Linked DNA regions of Homo sapiens. The protein of the gene in region 2 interacts with the protein of the main gene of each other region in a pairwise test. Each region holds a gene or a part of one and is shown on either strand. Other genes may lie near its edges. The genes, in order: SPATA7 and NPHP4.

Region 1 (13,216 bases), on a different chromosome or scaffold from region 2:
TATTAAGGCTTTGATCTCATTACTTGTTATTTGTCTGTTAAGGTTTTGGATTTCTTCATGATTCAATCTTGGTAGGTAGTCTATATCTAGGAATTTATCCATTTCTACTAGATTTTCCAATTTATTGACTTATAGTTGCTCATAGTAGCCTGTAATGATCTTTTGAATTTCTCCAGTATCTGTTGTAATGTCACCTTTTTCATTTCTAATTTTATCCATCTTCTGTTTTTTCTTACATGTTTGACTAAAAGTTTCTCAATTTTATCTTTTCAAAAAAATCAACTATTTCATTGATCTTTTGTATTTTTTCCTTAAATTTCCATTTCATTTATTTCTGTTCTGATTTGTATTGTTTCTTCTCTTCTACTACTTTTGGGTTAGATTTGCTCTTGCATTTCTATTTAAGATGCATTATTAGGTTATTTGAAGTTTTTCCTCTTTTTTGATGTAGGTGCTTATAACTATAAACATCCCTGTTAGTAGCACTTTCATTGTGTCTTGTAGGTTTTAGCATATTGTGGACTATTATCATTTGTTTTAAGAAATTTTTCAATTTCCTTCTTAATCTCTTTTTTGACCCACTGGTCATTCAAAAGCATATTATTTAATTTTCATGTATTTATATGGTTTCCAAAATTCCTCTTGTTATTGATTTCTAGTTTTATTTCATTGTGGCCACAGAAGATATCATTTCAACTTTTCAAATGTTTTAAGACTTGTTTTGTGACCTAATATATGGTCTGTCCTTCAGAGTGATCCATGTGATGAAGAAAAAAAAATCTGTGTTCTACAGCCATTGGATAACATGTTCTGTACATATCTGTTAGGCCCATTTGGTCTATAGCACAGATTAAATATGTTTTTGATTTTTTTTTTTTTTTTGTCTGGAAGATCTGTCTAGTGCTGAAAGTGAGGTGTTGAAGTCTCCAGCTACTATTGTATTGGAGGCTATCTATCTCTTTAATACTAGTAATATTTGCTTTATATATCTGGGCACTACAGTGTTGGGGGCATATATGTTTACAACTGTTACATCGTCTCGCTGAATTGACCCCTTTATTATTATATAATGGCCTTCTTTGTCTCTTCTTAAGTTTTTGTCTTAAAATCTATTTTGTCTGATATAAGTATAGCTACTTCTGCTCTTTTTTGGTTTCCATTGACATGGAGAATCTTTTTCCATCACTTTATTTTTAGTTTTTGTGTGTCATTATAGGTGAAGTGTGTTTCTTGCAGCCACAGATAATTGGGTCTTATTTTTTTTTTTATCCATTCAGCCAGTCTATGTTTTTTGATTGGAAAGTTTAGACCTTTTACATTCAATGTTATTATTGACAAGTAAGGAGTTACTCCTCTCATTTTGCTATTTATTTTCTGATTGTTCTGTGGTCTTTGCTCCCTTCTTTCCTTCCTTCCTGTCTCCCTTTTAGTGAAGGTAATTTATTTTCTCTGGTGGTAGTATTTAATTTCTTGCTTTCTATTTTTTGTGTATCTGTTGTATGTTTTTTGATTTGAGGTTACCATGAGGCTTGCAAATATTATCTTGTATTTATTATCATTAATTATTTTAAGCTAATAACACTGCTTGCATAAACTAACAAGCAAAAAAAAACCAATAAAAATTCTACACTTTAACTTCATCCCCCAGCTTTTTAACTTTCTGTTGTATCTATTTATATCTTATTGTACAGTCTATGTCTTGAAAAGTTGTAATTATTATTTTTGATTTCATCTTTTAGTCTTTCTACTTAAGGGTACTTTCCACTCTACAGTTACAGTGTCATAATTTTCTGTGTTTTCCTGTATATTGACTACTACCAGTGAGTTTTGTCCCTTCGGATGATTTCTTATTGCTCATTAATGCCCATTTCTTCCTGATTGAGGTGCTCTCTTTAGGGGAGTACTTGTAAGACAAGTCTTGTGTTGATGAAATCCCTCAGCTTTTGTTTATCTGGCAAGGTCTTTATTTCTCCTTCATGTCTGAAGAATATTTTCACTGGATATACTATTCTCGGGTAAAAGTCTTTTGTCTTCAGCACTTTAAATATGTCATGCCACTCTCTCCTGGCCTGTAAGGTTTCCACTGAAAAGTCTGCTGCCAGATGTATTGGAGCTCTAGTGTATGTTACTTGTTTCTTTTTCGTGCTGCTTTTAGGATTCTTTCTTTATCCTTGACCTTTGGGGGTTTGATTATTATATGCCTTGATGTAGCTTTCTTTGGATTAAATCTGCTTGGTGTTCTGTAGCCTTCTTGTACTTGGATAGTGACATCTTTCTCTAAGTTTCAAAAGTTCTCTTTTATTATTTATTCAAATAAACTTTCTATCCCTATCTCTTTTTCTACCTCAACTTTAAGGCCAATAACTCTTAGATTTTCCCTTTTGAGGCTATTTTCTAGATCTTGTAAGCATGTTTCATTGTTTTTTTATTCTTTTTTCTTTTGTCTCTTCTGACTGTGTATTTTCAAATAGCCTGTCTTCAAGCTCTCTAATTCTTTCTTCTGCTCGATCAATTCTGCTATTAAGATACTCTGATGCATTCTTCATCAGCTGTGTAGCCTGGGGTTGGTGAGGCGGGACAAAGAGGGAGAGGTGCAAGCACTCTTAGCTTCCCCAGCTGGTATCTTAATAGGTCACACGTCCCACCCTCCAACTCAATCTACTGGCTTTGAGCCCAGCTCAATACCAGGACTTGCATAAGAATTGCAGTTCTTGTGGCCTAAACTGCCCCTCAAGTTCACTTAGGGCCCCAGTGCCTCCAGCCCACAGTGGCAAGCCTTGCCAGAACTCAAGCTCCAATTGCTGGAATGGGCAATTACCCTCTGCCTTGGGCCGGTCCAAATGCCCCCTCCATGGGCAGGCATCAGCTGAGTACAGCTCAGTTTGCTTTCTGCTGTGATGGGGCAGCACTGAGTCTAATGCAAAGCCTCATGACCGCTGTGCTCCCCCTCTCTGAAGCACAGAGATTCTCTCCAACAGGGAGCTGCTGCTGGGGAATGGGGGAGGAGACAGGGATGGCATCAGCAATTTAAGACTGTCTTTCCTACCCTCTTTGGTGCCTCTTTCAGTCATGTGAAATCAAAGCCAGGCACTGAGAGTGCTCCCTTGATTTTTGGTTCCTATGAAGATTACTCCCTTTGTGTAGACAGTTGTCAAGCTAGGTGTTCCTGAGAAGGAATGATTGGCAGAGCCTTCTATTCGGCTATCTCACTCCGCCCCTCCCCTGGAATCACTTTTTAAAATGTTTGTCAGTTGCACGTTACATTGCTTGAATAAGATTTGTAGGTAATATTGCCTTAGCATGGCTGCTTTCCTCACAGGGATGGAGCTTAAAACTTTCCTAAAGCCCCCTCTAGTGACAAACAGCAAATTATTATCCATTATTTCATACCTCCAAGCTCTAAATACCTCCAAGCTCTAAAGTTCCATTTTCTCATTTAGTTATTAGATGAATCAATTGCTACATTATTTCAATTAGAGAATGACTGAGAAATAGTTAATAGCTCAAATTCTCAAGCATTCTTAAATCACTGAAACCTAAGCAATTTTGTTTTGAGACTGAGGTCAGCACAGTGCACATTTAACTCTATAATTTTACTCTGCCCTCATACATATAATTTTTAAGGATTCCCTAAATTTCCTTCATTTTTGTCTTTCAGGAACTTTAAGGGTTAAAATATGTTCGCAATAACTCAATAAATAGAAAAATGTTGTTTTGAACTTTGGCTTCTTGTTGTTTTCACTGTATTTACTGGAACATTTTCTAAACACACAAATATAAATTCCAGGAATCCTCTGAATTATGAAACTAAGGGTCATCCATAAAGACATAGATTAAATATATAATAATAACATAATGCTTAAAATAATAATATATAATAAAACAGAATAAACAATAAACTATATATTATTTGCATAACTATAGGTTATGGTATTAAAATATATAGTTTATTTCACTTATATAAAATTGAAATATATTGTATATTTCAAATATATAAAAGCCCATTTCCAAAGGGCTTAGAGCTCATCCAATAAGACAGGCCTAATTAAACCATTAAAAGAAGAAGTCATATTCCTAATAAAGGGAATTAACGAGATAAATTTTTAAAAGGCTATGAATATTTATTTCAACTGAGCACAAATCTTAGTTTTGAGGTTCCTGTAAGCTAATACAAAAAAAGAAACCCAGTAATTGATTAGTTCATGCCAATTCATTAAGGGAAACAAAGTATTTCCGTCTAAAACACACATATGGGTCAGGCACAGTGGCTCATGCCTGTAATCCCAGAACTTTAGGAGGCTATGGCAGGTGGATCACTTTAGGCCTGGAGTTTCAGACCAGCCTGGCCAACATGGCAAAACCCTGTCTCTACTAAAAATACAAAAATTAGCCAGGCATGGTGGCTCACGCCTGTAATCCAGCACTTTGGGAGGCTGAGGCGGGTGGATTGCCTGAGCTCAGGAGTTCAAGACCAGCCTGAGCAACACAGCGAAACCCCGTCTCTACTAAAATACAAAAGAAATTAGCTGGGTGTGGTGGCATGCACCTGTAGTCCCAATTACTCGGCAGGCTGAGGCAGGAGGATTGCTTGAATCCGGGAGGCGGAGGTTGCAGTGAGTCAAGATCACACCACCGCACTCCGCCTGAGCGATGGAGCGAGATTTCGTCTCTACAAAAATAAATAAATAAATAAACAAACAAAAACACATATGCAGATTTCTAAATGTCAATAACAAGATTATAGCATTGGAATAATTTCAGAACATGAAATTCAGGTGTAAACATATATATTCAACAAAAGGTCTTCAGAATGCCTACTCTCCAAGGCCATTGCAGCTGGTGATGATTTTCCCAATAGAAGGGTGTTTCTTGGGAGCTCACCCTATAATAAACTCATACCAGCTGTATCCATCACCCATGATCATGAATTATTTCCTGGGAATAGCAACCAGAAAGAATCTTCTCTCTTGTTTACATACATAGAGCCAAAGCAAAGGACAAATTAAATTGCACTTAGGATAACATGTTCATTGCTAAAATTTGAGAGACATAGACCCTATTATGCACACATTCTTGAAATAATTGGAACAAAATATTGAAAGGGAAATAATGAAATAGATGGCTTCAGACAAAGTTGGGTACCAGACAATATGGTCTCCAGAAGTTTCTCCCATTCTGCTGCCCTCTCCAGATCACGCACCCCCCCGTTCTACTTGAAAACAAAATCTACTTGTCATCCTAAAGTCTACTTTTCTAAGAGGAGCTGGTATCACCTTCCCTGAGTCAAGTCACTGTGTTGCTTATCCCAAGGGTGTTTGCCTTGGGTTCCTTGTTTCTAATTCAATTTAACAAATGCTTACTGGAGGCCTATTATATGCAAAGTATTTGCTAGCTGCCAGTAGTGAAATAAAGGCCTTCATGATCTTAGAAATGGATTTCAGGCAATAATGAGTACCTAGGAAGGAGTTTTTGTTCTCTGCATGATATGATTTGGCTCTGTGTCCCCCTCCAAATTTCATGTTGAACTGTAATCCCCATGTTGGGGGAGGTACCTAGTGAGAGGTAATTGGATCATGGGGGTGGATTTTCCCCTTGTCGTTCTCATGATAGTGAGTTCTCATGAGATATGTTTGTTAAAACATGTGTAGCACTTTCCTCTTCGCTCTCTCTCCCTCCTACTCTGCCATGTGAAGAAGCTACTTGCTTCCCCTTTGCCCTTCCACCATGATAGTGTTTCCTGAGGCCTCCCCAGCCATGCTTTCTGTACAGCCTATGGAACTGTGAGTCAATTAAACCTCTTTTCTTCATAAATTACCCAGTCTCAGGTAGTTCTTTACAGTAATGTGAGAATGAACTAATAGACTGCATAACATCTGACTCCCTGCCCCTGTATCCTTCCAAATTACTTTTGTTGTTGGGGCCACAGAGCCATCACACACACTTCAACATGCCTCCAATTTTGAATCATTGTCTGCCTACCCTGGGTTTTAGGAAAACAGGGGTTCAAGCGTTATTATAACCGGGTTTCTGATTTATTTCTCCTTCCTTGTTACAGAGTTTCTGACTTACTCCCTCAAGCCTGAATTCCCTGATACCCAGCTCTGCTGAGATAGGAATCTCAGAAGAGAGAAAGCTAACATTTATTGAATACATTCTTTTATTTGCCAGGCACTGTTAATTCTTTTAACTATAAAATTAGTAGCATCATTTTTTCATCCCAAGCAACAGAGAGGTAGACTGTTGATGAAAAGAGTCAAACTCTGTAAAATATTTTTAGAGATTTATTCTGAGCCAAATATGAGTGACCCTCAGGAGGTCCTGAGAACATGTGCCCAAAGTGGTTGAGGTGCAGCTTGGTTTTATACATTTTAGGGAGGCATGAGACATCAATCAAATAAGAAATACATTGGTTTGGTTCAGAAAGGTGGGACAACTCAATGAGTATGTAAATTTAAACATTTCCTGGTTGACAATTGGTTGAGTTTATCTGAAGGCCTGGGATCAATAAAAAGGAAATGTTGGGGTTAAGATAAAAGATTGTGGAGACCAAGTTTATTGTGCAGAGGAAGCTCTCAGTATAGCAGACCTCAGAGAGAGAGCAGATTGTAAAATTTGTCTTGTCGGACCTAAAAGGGTGCCTGGCTCTTAGTTGGTTATCTCCTGGATTTGGAAAGGAAAGAAGGAAAACAAAGGGGAAAAGAGATTCTCTATAGAATGTGGTTTTTTCCCACAAGAGATTTTGCAGGGCAATTTCAAGATATGGCAAGGAAATATATCTTGGGGTTAAATATTTTGATTTTTTTTTCCTTGTCTCATAATATTATGCCAGAATCAGATTGGAAAGTAAGTCATGGTATATAGAGTCAAATAAAACCCATCTGATAAGAATTTATGGTTTCTAGGGCATGACTCCCTAGACACCTTAGATAGGAATTTGGGCAAGATAAAAAAATTAGAGCTTAGTCCTCAACTCTACAGAAGAAAATGACATTTACCCAGGAATGGGCATTGCAATAGGAATATGCGTGCCATGGCAAACTGTTTGCATATTCAAGGAATTAAAGGAAAAAAAAGTTTTTTTAAAAAATAAAAAAAGGAGAGGATTACATAATTGTTTTGAGGTAATTAGCCTTGGCTCCAAGCATCAATAACAAGGGTGATGTCAGTTCAAGGTTGGACAGACAATTGCTGGACAGATGTCCTCATAGAAGTATCTTTTTGGGTAAGGTGGAGGTCTTTGTGCAAGGTTGTGGTTTTCGCAGTATTTTGTGATAGTTTTATTATCAGGCATTCATGGATGAGAACTCTCCTTCATGGCCTTCTCCAGTTCCACTTGTCAGGTTTTCTAACACATGTGACTCTATTTTTGATTCTGACAACTTTCACAATCTACATTAGAAAAGAGAAAACTGGGGCTCAGAAAGTTTTAGAAACTAATTCAAGATCAAGCTGGTAAGTAGCAAAAAATTTAGAATTAAGTTCTACATATCTGGTTCCAAAACCAGGACTCTTTTCATTACAGCAGTGGTTCTCAACAGAGTTGCGATTTTGCCCCCCAGGGAATATTTCACAATGTCTGGAGACATTTATGACTGTCAGGATTGGAGGTGGAGTGGGTGGGGTCTGCTTCTGAGAAGCTACTTGCTTCTAGTAAACGGAGGACAGGGATGCTACAAAACAGTTCATAGGGACAGCACCCCCACAACAGAGAATTATACAACCAGCCCAAAATGTCAATGGACATTTGGGCTGAGAAGTCTTACATGACAGAATGCTTCCTACCCTGATCTGACGTTATTTCCAAGGATTCAAAGGTAACTGCTTCAAAATTAAACAAATTATAGAAAGCCATCAATAAATCAACCCCTTATTCATGTTGCAGCTCTCTTCCATTATAAATAAAAATGGATTGAAACTTACGATAAAAGGGAGGCAGGGACAGGAGCGGGGAAGCTTGGCGAGCAGAAAGGAAATTCAAACTTATTATTAAGGTTAAGAATTAAGATGTAAATATGTAGATGTTTTTCACCCCTAGGATTTTCACTAATCCAAAAGTTCACGGACTGCTTTGAAATTTAATTATTTGGAACTGGTTAAATGTTACCCTGACCTCAGCTAACATTTGTGTTTCACTTTTCTCCGGGACCCAGGGGACGTGGATGCCAGATGAGTCCACCTCCTCTCCCTGCTCTTCCCGCAGGGACAGAGCCTGCCAGGTGCTGGTGACTCGGATCCTGACAGGAGGTCGCTCTGCGGAAGACTGGCAGGATCCCAGAGCAACAGACTGGGGCTCGATGCCCCTTCCCCGCCAGGTCTCTCCGTCCGCAACTGTCCTCCTAGTACCGGGTATCCCGCAGGCGGGGCTGCGGAACGCACGTCCCCTGCGCCGTGACGTCACAATAGCGACTCACTGGACCCAGCCCTTAGCAACGGCCTGGCAACGGTTTCCCTGCTGCTGCAGCCCCCGTCGGCTCCTCTTTTCCAGTCCTCCACTGCCGGGGCTGGGCCCGGCCGCGGGAAGGACCGAAGGGGATACAGCGTGTCCCTGCGGCGGCTGCAAGAGGACTAAGCATGGATGGCAGCCGGAGAGGTAAAGGGCAGCTGTCAGGGGCTACCGCCGCCTCGCCCCTCGCTCCAGGCGGCGCTCCCAGCCTCGGGTCCGGGCAGCTGAGTGCAAGGCCGCCCCTTGGGGCGCTTCCTACCCCTGGCTGAGTCGCCAGTGTTGCCTGGAGCTGCCCAGGCCTGCGCAAAGGAAGAGGGAGAGCCTGCTTGCCAGCCTCGCAGGTCCGCTTCTTTGCCCTGAATTTGTCGCCCTGACACCAGGGGCCCCTGTCTCCTGAACTCAGGGTCGTGCAGCCTTTAAAACCTCAGTAGCTCCCAGGCAGAGGAACCAGGTTTGGTCTTTGGAGTCAGACCTCCCCGGGCCCCAAATCAAACCCCTCTGCTCTCCATGGAGACGACCCTCAGTTTTCTTATCTCTTGAACGTGAGGGTCAAATACCCAGGCCATGGAGTTCTTGAGGATTAAATGCAGATAATATAGAGAAGATCCTGGCGCATTTGAAGTGGTCAGTAAATACGAAATCTCCCAGTAACGAACTACCTCCCCCAAAGCTACTGAGTAACCCAGGGTTTCTGTAACTTTCTGTGAATAGGAATCCCCTCAGGGTCATGTTAAAATGCAGATTATGATTCAGTAGGTCCCTTGGGGGTGGCTGAGATTTTGCATTTATAATAAATTCCAAGTAATGCGGTGTTGCTGGTCAGCGGACTGCAGTTTTAGCAGCAATCCGTACTCACCATATACACCTGTTCTCTACTGATTTCTTGAGTCAGGTGGACATCATGTGGTGGGGTTGGGGGTGGGGAAATACAATCTTAAATATCTACAAATCGGCCCAAACCAAATAATTTGCATTTTCACACTTTCTGAGCCAGTATCATTCTTTCCTCGAGTCAAATGAGGCAATCTTTATAGACTCCCCGCCCCTCCCAATTCAGTGTTTTTATCTATTTAAAAGACTGCCTTTAAACCAAGCTGCTAGATGATTCCTTGATGTCTTTCTTTGAATGAGTCTGCCTTTATTATATAGTCATTGATCAAAATAAGTGCTACTCCGAATGTAGGAGATAACTATTCATTGATCAGCAAACTATTCTGACACTTCACCAACCTAGGTTTCAGAAAAAGCAAATCAAAACGCTTTATGATCTTAAGAAATTTTGCATATAAACTAACATTAAACCCTTGCTATGTACTAGGAACTATTTCCAAATTATCTCATTTAATGTACAAAAATACCTTGATAGGCATTAGCCTTATTTCATAGTGAAGAAACTAAAGCAAAAGATCACAAATAACTTGCCAAGATCACAGCGGCAGAACAGGATTTGAATCTAGGTGAAGAATATAAATCTGAAGCCAATGCATTTACTTACTATCCCATGGTAGGGATGGGCAGGGGGAAAGGATAAATGTAACATTTAGAGTATGGTAGATTTAGTAAGTTGTCAGTATTTGTTTATTGAATTATTTTAAAAATTGGGTTCATGCCAAATGTAAAAAGGTTTATATTTTTACAACTTGCACAATTTAATTAGCTTCATTTTTAGGAAATAATATATGATAATGTCAAATACTGTTATTTTGAATTTTTAAAATAAATGTAATCACCAAATAACCAGGGCAGTCAGCTTTCATGTACTGTAAATTAATAGGAAACCATAAATAATTTTAGACACAGCTAAAATAATTGAGAATAAATTTCTTAGATTTCATTAGGAGGTGCTTTTAGTTATTTCAGAGCATAAAATATTAAAACATCTAAAGAAAAATTATCTTTTGTCATGCTCTTACTGTAATCACGTTTTAGACATTCTTTTGTAAGGCAAGCCTTCTAAATGGTGGTATAGTACAGCACCAGACTGAAAAACGGTTAGTCTTGTTTGTAATCTTTGTTTCCTACTAACTAACTAGGTAATCTTCAGCATGTCACTGTACGTCCCTGGGCCTCAGTTATTTATAAAATGGGGGCTTGGACTAGGTATATATAAGGCATGGTTTCCAGCTTCCTATGGGGGAAGGTGAAGAAAAGATTGAGAATAACAAACTGCCATTCACTCTAATATCAATGACCTTTAGGAAGGAGAGGAGACAACCTATTAGTATATTACTGAAAGTAACTTGAAAAAAAATTTTTTCCCAGCACTCTGGGAGGCTGAGGCAGGTGGATCACTTGAGGTCAGGAGTTTGAGACCAGCCTGGGCAACAGAATTAAACCCTGTCTCCACCAAAAAATACAAAAATTAGCCAGGCATGGTGGCGTGCGCCTGTAGTCCCAGCTACTCGGGAGGCTAAGGCAGGAGAATCACTTGAACCTGGGAGGGGGAGGTTGCAGTGAGCCAAGATCATGCCACTGCCCTCCAGCCTGGGCAACAGAGCAAGACTCCATCTCAAAAAAAAAATTGTTTTGATCTGTTGGTCTCATAGAGACACTTATCAATGGTAGATTTCCAAACCTTTGGTTTTCCAGAGAAACCTTGCCACAAGAAACACTTTCATCTTTCCTCACTGGACTTTCTTCTGGCTATTTTAATCAAATTGTGTAGGAAAATGGGCTGCTCTCATATACCAGTGAATTTCACCACTAAGACCTTCAATCTCATTGACAAGATTTTAGTCCTAATAGTTAGAGAATGATGTTCTTTTCCTTGGCATTTGGTTTGAGGCTACTTCTCCATGCCCCTTTGGCTCATTCTGGGTCCAGTCCAGTCAGGAGATAGAAACCATACAGTGATTTTTATACAAGGAAAAGTTAAAGAATTGTTATACTTTCATAAAAGAGTAACTATAAGATGTAAGGGGCTGGGCGTGTCAGCTCATGCCTGTAATCTCAGCATTTTAGGAGGCTGAGGCAGGAGCATCACTTGAGGTCAGTGGTTTGTAATCAGCCTGGGTAACATAGCAAGACCCTGTCTCTAGTATATAAAACAAATTAATGAATTAATTAAAAAGATAAGAAAACTGTATTTGGTACCTAGAATTACGGGAAAGTACTCAAAGAAGGACAATTTGAAAGAGAGTTTCTCCCAAAGACTGGGGTTCAGACCTCATTAGAGAAGGCGTGATTGTGCACTTGCCCAAAGCTTCATCACCGAGGAGTGATATCGGAGGCTTCACATTCCATGGGAAATAGACTTTGATAAATTGCTTAGCCAAGTCACTAAACAAACAAGTGAACAACAATGAAAACAAGCTCAGGAGAGGATTCTGTATCTAGAGTTGCTGCAATATATTACCTAAAATGTTAACTTTTCAACAAAAAGAAATTGCAAGTCATGCAAAAAAACAAAAACAAAAAAACAGGAAAATGTGACCTATACACAGGACACAAAGGAGGAACCAGAAACTATGAGAGGGTAGATGAATTAAATCGTCTTATTTCTCCCCTCAATTCTGTTAGGTTTTTTTTTTTCCTTTCTCTTTCTTTTTTCTTTTTTCGAGACAGGGTCTTATTCTGTTACCCAGACTGGAGTGCATTGCAGCCTCCTGGGCTCAATCATCCTCCCATCTCAGCCTCCTGTGTAGCTGGGACTACAGGCACACACCACCACACCCAGCTAATTTTGTATTTTTTTGTGCAGTTAGAGTTTCGCCATGTTGTCCAGGCTGGTCTTTGAACTTCTGGGCTTAGGTGATCAGCCTGCCTCAGTCTCCCAAAGTGCTGGGATTACAAGCACGAGCCATTGTGCTCAGCCCTAATTCTGTCATTTTTAATATGACATGTATCTATAGGAATATTAGAAACCAATGAGTATATGCCTTGGTGTACGTCTGATGGTAAATAGACAAGGGAACATAGACATCAAGGAACATCTAAATTCCATGTTTGTTCTTATCACCATCTTATGCTAAAGAGCAGCTGGATTGATTCCTGGGGCCAAATATTAACCACCTTGTTCACAGCTGTCACTTACAGATGGGTGGGGAAGCATTTCTATCCAGAGCATTATCACTAGGTTCCAGCCTTTTTTCATTCTCTTTTCATCCTTTCACACTTCTCTGGGTATACCTGTTTTTCCTTTTTCTGTGACCTATAGTGAAACATACATAGAATAGAATGGAATTTGGAGGGAATAAACTACATACAGCTGAGATATCTTCTTGGTCTGTTTCACATGATTTAGTAGCTTAGAACATGGTTCAAGTACTGAGCAGTTTATATTGGTCAAGATAGTGTAATGATTAAGACCCAGGAAACAGACTGCTTGGGTTCAGATCCCAAATCTGTCACATTCTTGTGTAATCTTTGGCAAATTACAAGTTTAACCTCTGTGCTTCAATTACCCTCATCTATAAAGTAGGGAGAATTATAGTATTGTAAGGATTAAATGAATTTATACCAGCAAAGTGCTTGGAGCACTGCCTGGCAGGGTTACCACTCAATAAATTAGCCTTTTGACTACAAATGAAGAAATCAACTCATACTGGTTTAAGCTAAAATGGGAATTTTTTTTTTTTTTTGGCTAATGTAAAGAAACGTCTAGGGAAGGAAGAGCTTCAAACATGGTTGGCCTCAGGTACTCAAATGATGTCACCAAGAAATCGCTTTCTATCTTGGTTCCACTTGACTGTGTAGGCTTCATTCTCAGACAGGTTCCTTTATAAGGTTCAGGATGGCCACCAGCAATACAGGGCTTGCTTAGACCCTTCACTG
Region 2 (10,454 bases):
CCCAGCATCCACCCCCGGGCTGTCCCACGCTCTCACCAGCAACCTCTCTGCATGGTCGTGTTTATTTCCAAGGGGAGCTGACAAGGCAGGGGAGCCCTGCGGGTGCATCCAAGGCCTGCCTTTGACTTCAGCGCCCGGTACAAGGATGGGAACCAGTGCTCAGCCAGTGTGACGCGTTACTTGGACTCGAAGGCACACTTATTTCCGAGACTGAGCTGTCTAACATTACCATGAAAAGCCCTGGGCACAACACCCTTTCCCACACTCAGGAGAAACTTTGCTAAATCTCCAGCTACTAAAGATACAACGGGCCCACCCAACTATGGGATGGTACCTGTCACCGCCCTGGGGCTTTTGGAAGACTGCTGGTGATTTGAGGAACTCGCTCCTAAATGCAGGCTAACTGCCCTCCATTCAGGTCCCCGGGTCTTCCCCTAGGAGTCCCAGGCACAGCCCCACCACACCTGGAAGGAGTCCTCTCTGAACCGCAGCAGCTCCGGGTGGTCGCTGTGCAGGTGGAATGTCCTCCGGGAGGGGTAGGGGTTGGTGTAGGTGATCCTCTTGTTGACACCCTTCCCTTCGCCCGCAGCCAACATGATCTCAAAGGCCTGTGGAGGGAGGGGACAGGGAGACGCTGCGGCCACTCACGGGAACAGCCACTGGCCCTTCCTCCAAGTATTCCCTGAGTCTCCTGTGCACCGTGCACGGGGACCCCCACAGAGATAAGACAGACGCTCTCTGGAGCTTCCATCCGGGAGAGACACAGCACAGGAGCAAACACTCATGCACCCGGCCCTGCTGGGTCAGAACACTGTATCCAGTGGTCCGAGTCACAGGGCCGAGGTGGGGGTCCTGCAGTGCCCTGGTATTGAGCCCCCATCCCCTCAGCCTGTGCCTGCCACACATACAGACCTTGGAGATGAGCGGCTGGCGGCAGCAGAGGCACACGAGCCAGGAGGCCACCAGCTGGTGGCAATCCACGTCCACCAGGTTGAGATGGACAAAGCGGCTGCCGGCCCTAAGGGGCCTCACGCCAACATGCAGGTCCTGCACCCCACGAGGCGGCAGCACGAAGACACCTTTGGGGTCTGTCTTCAAGAGCGAGAGAGGCGGGTCAGAGCACAGCCTCTCAGGATGTGCAAGCAAGGGGCTCCTGGGCGCCTGCAGCCCAATCAGCCAGGGGAGCCCAAGGTCATGGGTGGTTCCGGGGCGGCCAAATCTGAGGCCACAACCAACCCTGACATGACTGTGGCCGCGACTTGGGTCCACACCAGGCAAGTCCCTCCTCTCACACGGCGACTATTCCCTAAGCGCTGCCTCCGCAGACAGAACTGAAGCCATCTTGGGCTTAAAACCCCGGCCAGCTGGTGGCACCAGGGGCCGCCCTCCCACCCCGTCTAACTGTGGCTTCACTAACACCAGAGCTCCTGTCACTGTTCACCTTGCCAGGAATTCTGAACACCGGCCTTTGGGGTTGGTGTGTACGTCACTCACCCCACAATGGCACATCTAACGAAAGGCAACTGCCGAGAGGCCTCTGGTAACAGCGTCTGCGCGCTGGAGGCGCTGGAAAAGCTGCTGTCAGGGCCACCCACTGTGCTCCAGCTGAATGCCCACTGCCCGTCTCCAGGCTGGGGTTGGGGAGAGGCTCAGAACAGCCCCCAGAGAGGCCGTACCTTCAGCTCCTGGGGATGAGAGGTGAAAGCTCTCACTTTCCTCACTGTCTGTGTCCCCCGAAGGACAAGGGACAGGCGGGTCAGCTGGCCTGCGACGCAGGAGACATCCACGCGCTGCAGGGAGTGGAGGTAGACCTGCCACGTCTGTGTGGGTGTCGCCAGCCAGCGATCCCTGCAGTGGGATGGGAGCCATCTGCACTTGTCCCGGAGGACTCAGCACCGGCCCACGAGAGGCCAACAAGGGCTGCCAGGAGCGTGGGCAGACAGGAGGCTGTGCAGGGAAAGCCCCAGAGGACCAGGCCACAGGAGGCAGAGCTGGGGCCACGCAGGGAAAGCCCCGGAGGACCAGGCCCCAGGAGGCAGAGCTAGGGCCTGGTGGCTCCACCCCTGGCTGCCCATCTCCCACCCACAGCAGAGGCTCTCAGGGCGCAGCAGGGCTGCTTAGGAACCACATGTCAAACAAATGACAAGGCACGCTTTGGCCAAACACACATCCTGGACAAGTGTCCACCCCCAATAGGGGTTCTGAGGCTAAGCCAAGGGCAGCGCCACGCAGGAGACAGGGTGGGGCTGGAGGTCATGCCGGCCTGAGCACGGAAGCCCCTGTTAGCATTTTAGGGCCAAGAGCCTGCTGCTTCACAGTCAAATGGGGCTGGGTGAGGCATCTTCATGGGCTCACGAGGAAGCCACTCTGAGACGTGGTCACGTGGCCCCTCTGTGGTGGGCACTGAGTGCAGGTTAGCCCCTGCCCCATCCTCAGAAGCACTGCAGGAAATCTCCGAGCTCACACCAGTTTGAAAGGATTCTCACAGGGCTTGGGGATCCGACTTAGGAGGGGAGGGGAAAGGGGCCGGGTCATTTAGCCTGGAGGAGAGAGGGATGGGCATTTCCACCACAGTCCTGCCTCTCCGCAGGAGGGACCACAGCTTCATTCATGCTGTTCAGCCTAGGGACTCAGCAAGAAAAAGGTAATGAGGGGCTTCTGGGTGGCCCTTGCCACTATCTGGGGACAGAGGCTGACTGGTGTCTCTCCTTGGTGGCAGGAGCTGCATCCCAAGTCCCTCAGGCTGCACGTGCCCCTCCAAGGTGCCTTCCCTAGACCCCTGCGGGCCCTGAACTCGCAGCAGAATCCCGCCTCACAAAGCGAAGGCCCGAAAGCTCCCCCAATTTTAGGAAGGGGCCAAGCCCACTTTCAATCCACCAGCAGCCCCAGGCCTGCCTCCTCCTCTCCTCCGCCACCGCCTCCAGGTCCCCAAAGCCTGTGCACTTACGAGTAAATGATGACAAAGAAGTCTTTGATCTCCGGGCTTGGACCACTGGCCACCTTCAGAAATATGTCCCGTGGTTCCCCGGGGCCCTGCCAACCAGATGTGCAGCACATCAGGGCACACAGTGCTCTGCCGACCCCAGCCTGGCCCCTAAATCTGTGACTAATACACGCAGCGAGTGACGGCCAGTCCCTCCCAGAACGCATCTGTTCATGTTCTATACCAATCGGAATTCACTATTCTGTTCACTGCCAAAGAGAAGATCATTAGCTTCCTGATTTTACATGGATCTCAACAATTAGATTCTACAGGAGATTTTATCCGGTTTCCTAACTGGTCATAACACAATTATTGCCTTATCCTTTACATAATGGTAATTAATAAGTGCCTTAATTACCATCCACTTTATTAACTTTGCTTCGTGCCTTTTTAAAATTTAAATTCAGATGATCAAGGAGCTGATCTGCTAGTAGAAAAAATAAAAACACACTCATAAAGCTCTCATAAGGATGTCAAAATAGCCCTTTAGTACCTTGGGAAAGAAACCACTTAGCAGAAAACCTAAAATGAAGAGGATCCCAGGATACCCGTGGGGAAGCCGACAGGGGCGCAGACTCACTGGGAAGGATCTGCCTGAGCTGGGGCCACAACACAACCTACCACATTCTGGGTCTCACAGATGACGTTCGGGTCGCTGCAGCGAACATGGACTGGGGGGTCCTCACCAAGCATTCCCACCGGAGCACCTGGAGCAGGGGAAATGTCAAAAAGAGTCTTCTCCACAGCCCCAGCCTGTGTGGAGAAGGCCCCACACATTACACACTATAGGACAGGACAGGCTCGTCACAGGTGCTCAGCAAGACACCTGCTGGGGAAACGGACGCCGCCACCTTTCCCAGGACAGCATCCAAGCACTGTGTTCCCTGCATGGACACCGCCCATCCAGCCCACTGCGGCTCGGCTGCAGCCATCTCCACAGGGAATAATCGAGGGGGCCACAAAAAAGAAAACACAGCTCCCTGGAGCAGGGAAGCCTGCACTCTGCTGTAAGGGGCACCTACCAGAAACACGCGGGCCGTCAGGTGAGGAGGTAGGTGTTCCTCCAGGCACACCTGGACCTGGGCCGCGGGAGCTGGGATTTTTTAGAAGGGCAGACTCAGCCGGCAAATGCGCACCTAGTCATCTCAGAGGTGGCAAGAGGGACACCGTTTCAAACCATAAAGGCAGGAGAGAGAATTCCCCAGGCCCCACGTGCTGCTCTGACAGCACCAGGGCATGAAGCCATGAGGCCATCTGTCACCCTCAAGAGGTATCTACTTCCAACAGGTGAGCCTGCAACATGTGGGCTGCAGGGTCAGTGCAGGACCTGCCTGGAAATGTGTGCCAGGGCGGCAGGCGGATGGCCTTCTTCAGGAAGGAGAGCTCCGGGTGATAGAAGCGGAAGACCTGGTCCACCACGTGGGGCTGCAGCTCCACAGTCAGGCAGAGCACGGCGATGGGCTTGCCACCACTCGCTCGGAACAAGACCTGTGAGGAGGCCACGCTGAGTGTTGGGATGGGCACGAGGCTTGTGAGCAGCTTCTTGTCCCTCCTTAGACAGCACACGTATCTCCACTGTTGCCAAGACCCCCTCACCCTCCACTGCCATGAGCGGGGAAGGTCGGGCATCGTCAAAGGCAGGGACTGAGTCTGCAGCAGCAGGTCTCCACCAGGAGGGGACCGCTAAGCAAGGTCTGGGCCGGCACCCACACAGGGCACCCAAGCAGCCACACTGCCATTATTCCTCGCGAGTACAGCACACTTCTTAAATGCCAGTGGAGAAGGTCTGCAGTCCCAAGTCAAAACTACTCCTGCCATGATCCCACCTCCCGACACCCTGTGTGCATGTGCGCAAGTCAGGCCAGGAGGTCCTGGAGTGGGTGGTGGCAGGGCCAAGTTCGCGGTCAAGCACGTCAGCACAAGCTCTTTGATTCCAGATGGCAAAAAGAGGCTGTGCCTAAACCAAAGGGGTTAGAAATAGAAACTTTCCTGGTTTCAAAAGAGCTACTCATTAAAAACCATATTGTCTGAAGAGGTATTAATTGGGACAACTGATAAAAAGGCTATATTTGTTTCAAGATACACACAACCACAGAGACATGCATACTCACACACACGCACCCACACACACGCATGCACTCATGCACCCACACATGCACCCATACACATACACATACATGCACACCCACATGCATGCAGGCACACGTGCACACACATGCAAACATGCACCCATGCATGCACACACGCATCCAGCCACAAATGCACACACATGCATGTACACATATACATGCACGCATGCCCCACACACACACATGCACGCCCACATGCATGCACCCACACATGTACACATATGCATGCACCCACATGCACACACGCACACAATGCACACATACATGCACACACATCCACCCACACATGCACACACGCACCCACACACGCATGCACACACATACATGCACACATGCCCCCACACGCACACATATGCACGCCCACATGCATGCACCCACACATGTACACACATGCATGCACCCACATGCACACACACACAATGCACACACACATGCACACACATCCACCCACACATGCACACACACGCACCCATACACACACACATGCACACACATACATGCACACATGCCCCCACACGCACACACATGCATGCCCACATGCATGCACCCACACATGCACACATGCATGCACCCACATGCACACACGCACAATGCACACATATCCGCCCACACATGCACACACACGCACCCACATGCACACAATGCACACATACATGCACACATATCCACCCACATGCATACACATCCACCCACATGCACACACACACACACACACATGCACACCCACATGCATGCATGCATCCATACATGTACACAGATGCACAAATACAAACATGGATGCACATACACACACACCACCCACACATGCACGCACACACACACATGCATGCACACACACATGCACACACTTCACACCTGCACACACTGAGAAGGAGAGAGTGGGGCAGGGCAAGAATGGAAACAAGATCCTTCCAAATATATCTTGCTTTATAGTTTGATTTTTGACTTACTTGTTTTTAATTTTGAAAACTAAAATAAATAGAAGTGTTAATGTATTAAAAATAAACAAATCTAAGCTTCTATCAAGTTGGTGCTGTAATTATCCAGAGAAGAATTCTTTAAGTAAATGTAAATCACAGGACACAAAGGACCTAAAGACAAATGCACCTTCAGAAATCTTGCACTGACAGATAGTGTCTAGCCCTGGTTGGTACTGATGTTTTGAAATATACACGTACATAAAGATGGCCAGTGGTATTGTAGCCAAAGGGATTTGGCCAGTGTGGTCAGCAGATTGGTTATATACAGAGGAAATTAGGCAAATAAGTAAGCCAAATGCGAGCTAGGTTTCTCATGAGCAGAAATGAGAATTACAAACATGGAAAAAAACAGGAAGAAACCCGTGATGTTAAATTGGTGTTGGAAGAACTGCTGCAAATTCATGGTCTTCAGCACACTAGAAACAGTAGTCTGTGCACATACACGCACATATCTATACATCATATATGCATGATATGCACATATTGTGTATGTATGTATCTGCACCCACAGGCATACACCTCTTAGGTCTCTGCTGAGAGGGACTTAGCAGCAGTGACATCCCAGTAGTACTGAGTACATCTAACGCTCAAATCTTGGTTTCTAAATATCATTCTCCAACCAAAGGAACCCGAGCTAAATAGCTGACACTCCTGAAATGCAAGCTGAGCCTGGGGCGTCTTGCTGTGCTGGGCAGTAAGGAAAGACTCAAAGGAGGACAGGGGTGAATCAACAGGACGCAGGAGCTGGCCTGAAGAGGCTGCCCTGGTTAGTCAGGGCACGAATATGAGCAACAAAATAAATAATGATAGTAACAAAATGAATAAAATAGAAATTCATTGTTCATAAGGATATAAAAAGTAAATAGGTGAATGGGGTGAAGGCACAGCTCTACCTTACTTAAAATACCAGTAATCAACAGAGAAGGAATGATGGAATTGGAAAATCCATGGCAGGCAAGCATCCCACTACCAACCAACTCGGGCCAGGTCATCAGTGCACACTGACACCTAGTGCGTCAAAGTCTGATGAAGAATAGGGTATTTGAACGGCCTCAGTATCTCCCAACAAGATACTTACTCATGACTTTCTAATTACTAGACATTTCCTGATATTACAGGAAAAAAGCATGGCAGATGTCATCTTAACTGAATGAAAACAGTAACATCGCCAGTAACAGGACAAAGCAACACGGTGTCCCTCACAGTATGATGTTCGTAGAGGACACGGCAAATGTCTGTGGAGGTCCTGCCCCAAGTGCATAACCTGGGTCTAACTGAAACGAACACCAGACCAGCCCCACTGGGCACGCCCTGCAGGATAACCGCCTGTGCACTTCACAACAGCTGCAGCCACGCCAGAAGGACTCCATGGGCAGCAGGCTGGTGGGGGCCACTGGACGGGCCATCTATCAAGTGCTGGGACATTTGTGAATGTGAATGGGGCCTGTGATGACAGAAGAGGAGCGTCAGTTCCCTAATTTTCATGGCTCTCCTTTGACCACAGAGGACAGTGGCCTTATTTTCAAGATAACCCAGCTCGAAGTGTCATGGAGTAAAGGGCATTACCTGATAATTTATTCTCAAATTGTTCAAGAAAAATGCACAAACAGAGAGTGGCGAGGCAAACATGGCAAAGGTTAGTGACCGGGAAGTCTGGGAAAACCCTATGTGGGGACTCTGCACTCTTCCTGTAACTCTTCCCTAAGTTCTAAATTATTTCAAAATAACTACTTGTTATTTAAAAAAGGCACAGGAGTTAACTTGAAAAGGATGGCGGTGGCCTGAGAGAGGGCAGTTCCAGCGTCTAAGAGCGGTGCCTCCATGGGATGAGAAATACAAATATAACGCCTCGGTGTCCATCATGAGACGCCGCAAACATGGACTGTCTCTGGAGGCTGCTAGGACGCAGCTCATTTATTTGAAAATTGATAAAGGGAATGATTCTAACATTCATCCTCACTTTCAAGTACAAAGTATATTTTAGGGTAACCAAACTGCTGATCGGGAAAGTCCTTGTTTGTAGAAAGATCACAGGAAGAATGACAGGACTGCAATTTCACCATTTTCCACCCTGGATGGAACACGCAGTGGGCCAGGAGCCTCAGCTGGATGCGAGTGAGGGAGACACGGGTGATGGCATCAGGCCATCAGCACCTGAGCACGGTGACAGCCAGCATGGCCTCTGTGGGTGGCCTTCATGGACAACGTGGTCTGCCCACTGAGCAACTCCAGAGGCGGAGCACCCCAGGACAGCGGGTCCTGATCCAAACGCACCAGTGGTAGAAAGGCCCGTGGTTACAGCCCCAGCAGACGATGCCGAGGTCTGCGTTGACTGGGGGCAGCAACAACAGCATGCAGTCATGATAAAAAGAAAAGTCCTTATCAGTCAGAGATACACACTGCAGTAATTATGGGTAAACTAACACAGTGTCTAGGATTTCCCTTCAAACTCCAAATTCATGTGAAGAGATCATATTTCTGACGTAAAGATTATTTTAAGGTGAAAAGAAATCTTACCTGAACTTTCCTTATCTGACTAGTGCACAGCCACCTGAAAGTGCAGCTGCCATTAAACCCCTATGTGAAAGTGTAAGTGAAAGCATCCTGCAAATTCCAGGAAGGTCACAGACTGGCCATGCTCACAGCATAAAGAGACAACAGAATGTCCCCGTCTTCCCACGGAGGCCCTGGCCCTCGCCCCCTTTGTGCTACATTGGCACAGAAACCTCGACCTCTGGGCATTTGGCAAGCTACTCACTTCCCAATGCTGCCACGGGCTCACAACGGTAAGGCCCGTCTTTGCTGCTGTCCCTCTGTCTACGGTCATCCACCTGCAGCCCTTACCATTCAGACCTGAGCTAGCAGAGGAAAACCTTCCTCCCAACGGTTTTGGCAACAGGACGCGATGGCTGGGACTTCCCACTCATGTAAGGAAAAAGCGTTAACCTAGAGCACTCAATAAAGATCAGATACATTCCTTAGATCAAGGCAAAGCTGTGGCTGCACACTTAAATAAAATAAAGCAAGTTTTCACTGGTGATGGGGCCCGGTGGACACAGAGGGCCAGGCTGCAACCACAGTGAGACCCGGGCCACGGGAACGCCACAGCCTCACAGGACTGCGCTGAACTCTGAATTCTGTCCTCCAGGCAATGTGTAAGAAAGACCAAAGCTTTTTAATTTTGTTTTTCACTTCCCAACTACTACAAAAGGCATGTTTCTACCGAATAAAAAACAACCTTCAGAAACTGCCATAAAGCAGCAGTGTCTCAAGCTCCTCCTGAGAATGTCTCAGCCAGCTGTTGAGAAGCAGGTGCCTTACTATACGGCCTTCGCTTAGCAAGGGACGTAACCAAGGACTACGTCTTATTTCCAGGAAGAACCACACCACACACTCACACACCAGGGAATGCTCTGCGTGAGGCTCAAGGAGTGGCCGCAGGCTGTGGCAGCCACCACGGGAACTGCGGCTTCACACCCGGAGAGCCCTGGGCTGTGAGAAGGCGGCCACCAAGGAGGCATTTCCGACCAGATACCATGCAGGCTGTGCCAGCGCCCAGACGGAGCTGCCCTGCCCAGCGAGGACACGGAAAAGGCCATTCCCAGGCCCACGCCACCCCTGCCCTGACCTGGCCCCAGCCCTCCCCTCCAGGAGGGGAGAGAAGGACACAAGGGTCAGGCCCTGGGAATACCCAGGAAGCCCCGAGATCAGTTTGTCCTCCGTTGCCCCTTTACCTTGGCGTGTTTAGTGGGCACTGCGCTGGACTTCCAAGGTGACACGGCGTCCATGCCCTTCTCGTTGCTCAACCCAGGAGAGGCCTGCAGGAACCGAACAGCACAAGCAGGTCAGGAAGCAACACCATTAGGCGACCAGCACCTGTGCTTAGAGACACCACTGCCACCCAGCTGGGAGCCACCAGCCTCCTCTCACACTGACTCTCCAGGCAGCAACCATCACCAACCGGCCTCACTGTGCCAGAGAAGGCTGAGGCTGCCAGGAACAAAGGGAACAGCAGATCCCAGGTGGAAACCCGGCTCTGCCTGAAGCCAAAGGCCTGAGGTCCCACCTGCAGTCCTCACAGCCCATCCCAAGAGCCAGCATGGCATCCTGTGAGTGAGCCTCTAGGGACATCTCAAGTCCACCTTAAGCGATGACCACCACCCTAGAGAGCTGACCCCAAAAGGTCAAAAGCTGAAACACACACTCCACACCCCATGCCGGCCTCACGCACCCGGGCATGACACACCCCCTGCAGGCACACCTCACACACCACCCCCTGCACACAAGTGCACACCTGCACACACACCTCACATACTCCCTGCACACACACAACTGCATGTCTGCACACACCTCACACACTCC

The links.
Region 1: the proteins of NPHP4 (region 2) and SPATA7 interact in a protein complementation assay, tested with the Homo sapiens proteins (one study listed by IntAct).

Annotation. Positions count from the first base shown.
Region 1 is NC_000014.9:88,377,248-88,390,463, forward strand, and holds the start of SPATA7 (spermatogenesis-associated protein 7), read left to right. Parts: upstream 1-8,409; 5' UTR 8,410-8,571; coding exon 8,572-8,590; intron 8,591-13,216. UniProt on the Homo sapiens protein: Involved in the maintenance of both rod and cone photoreceptor cells.
Region 2 is NC_000001.11:5,863,426-5,873,879, forward strand, and holds part of NPHP4 (nephrocystin-4), read right to left. Parts: intron 9,911-10,454; coding exon 9,827-9,910; intron 4,472-9,826; coding exon 4,315-4,471; intron 3,691-4,314; coding exon 3,605-3,690; intron 3,034-3,604; coding exon 2,948-3,033; intron 1,849-2,947; coding exon 1,677-1,848; exon of another isoform or gene 1,099-1,676; intron 1,093-1,098; coding exon 913-1,092; intron 609-912; coding exon 465-608; intron 1-464. UniProt on the Homo sapiens protein: Involved in the organization of apical junctions; the function is proposed to implicate a NPHP1-4-8 module. Does not seem to be strictly required for ciliogenesis. Required for building functional cilia.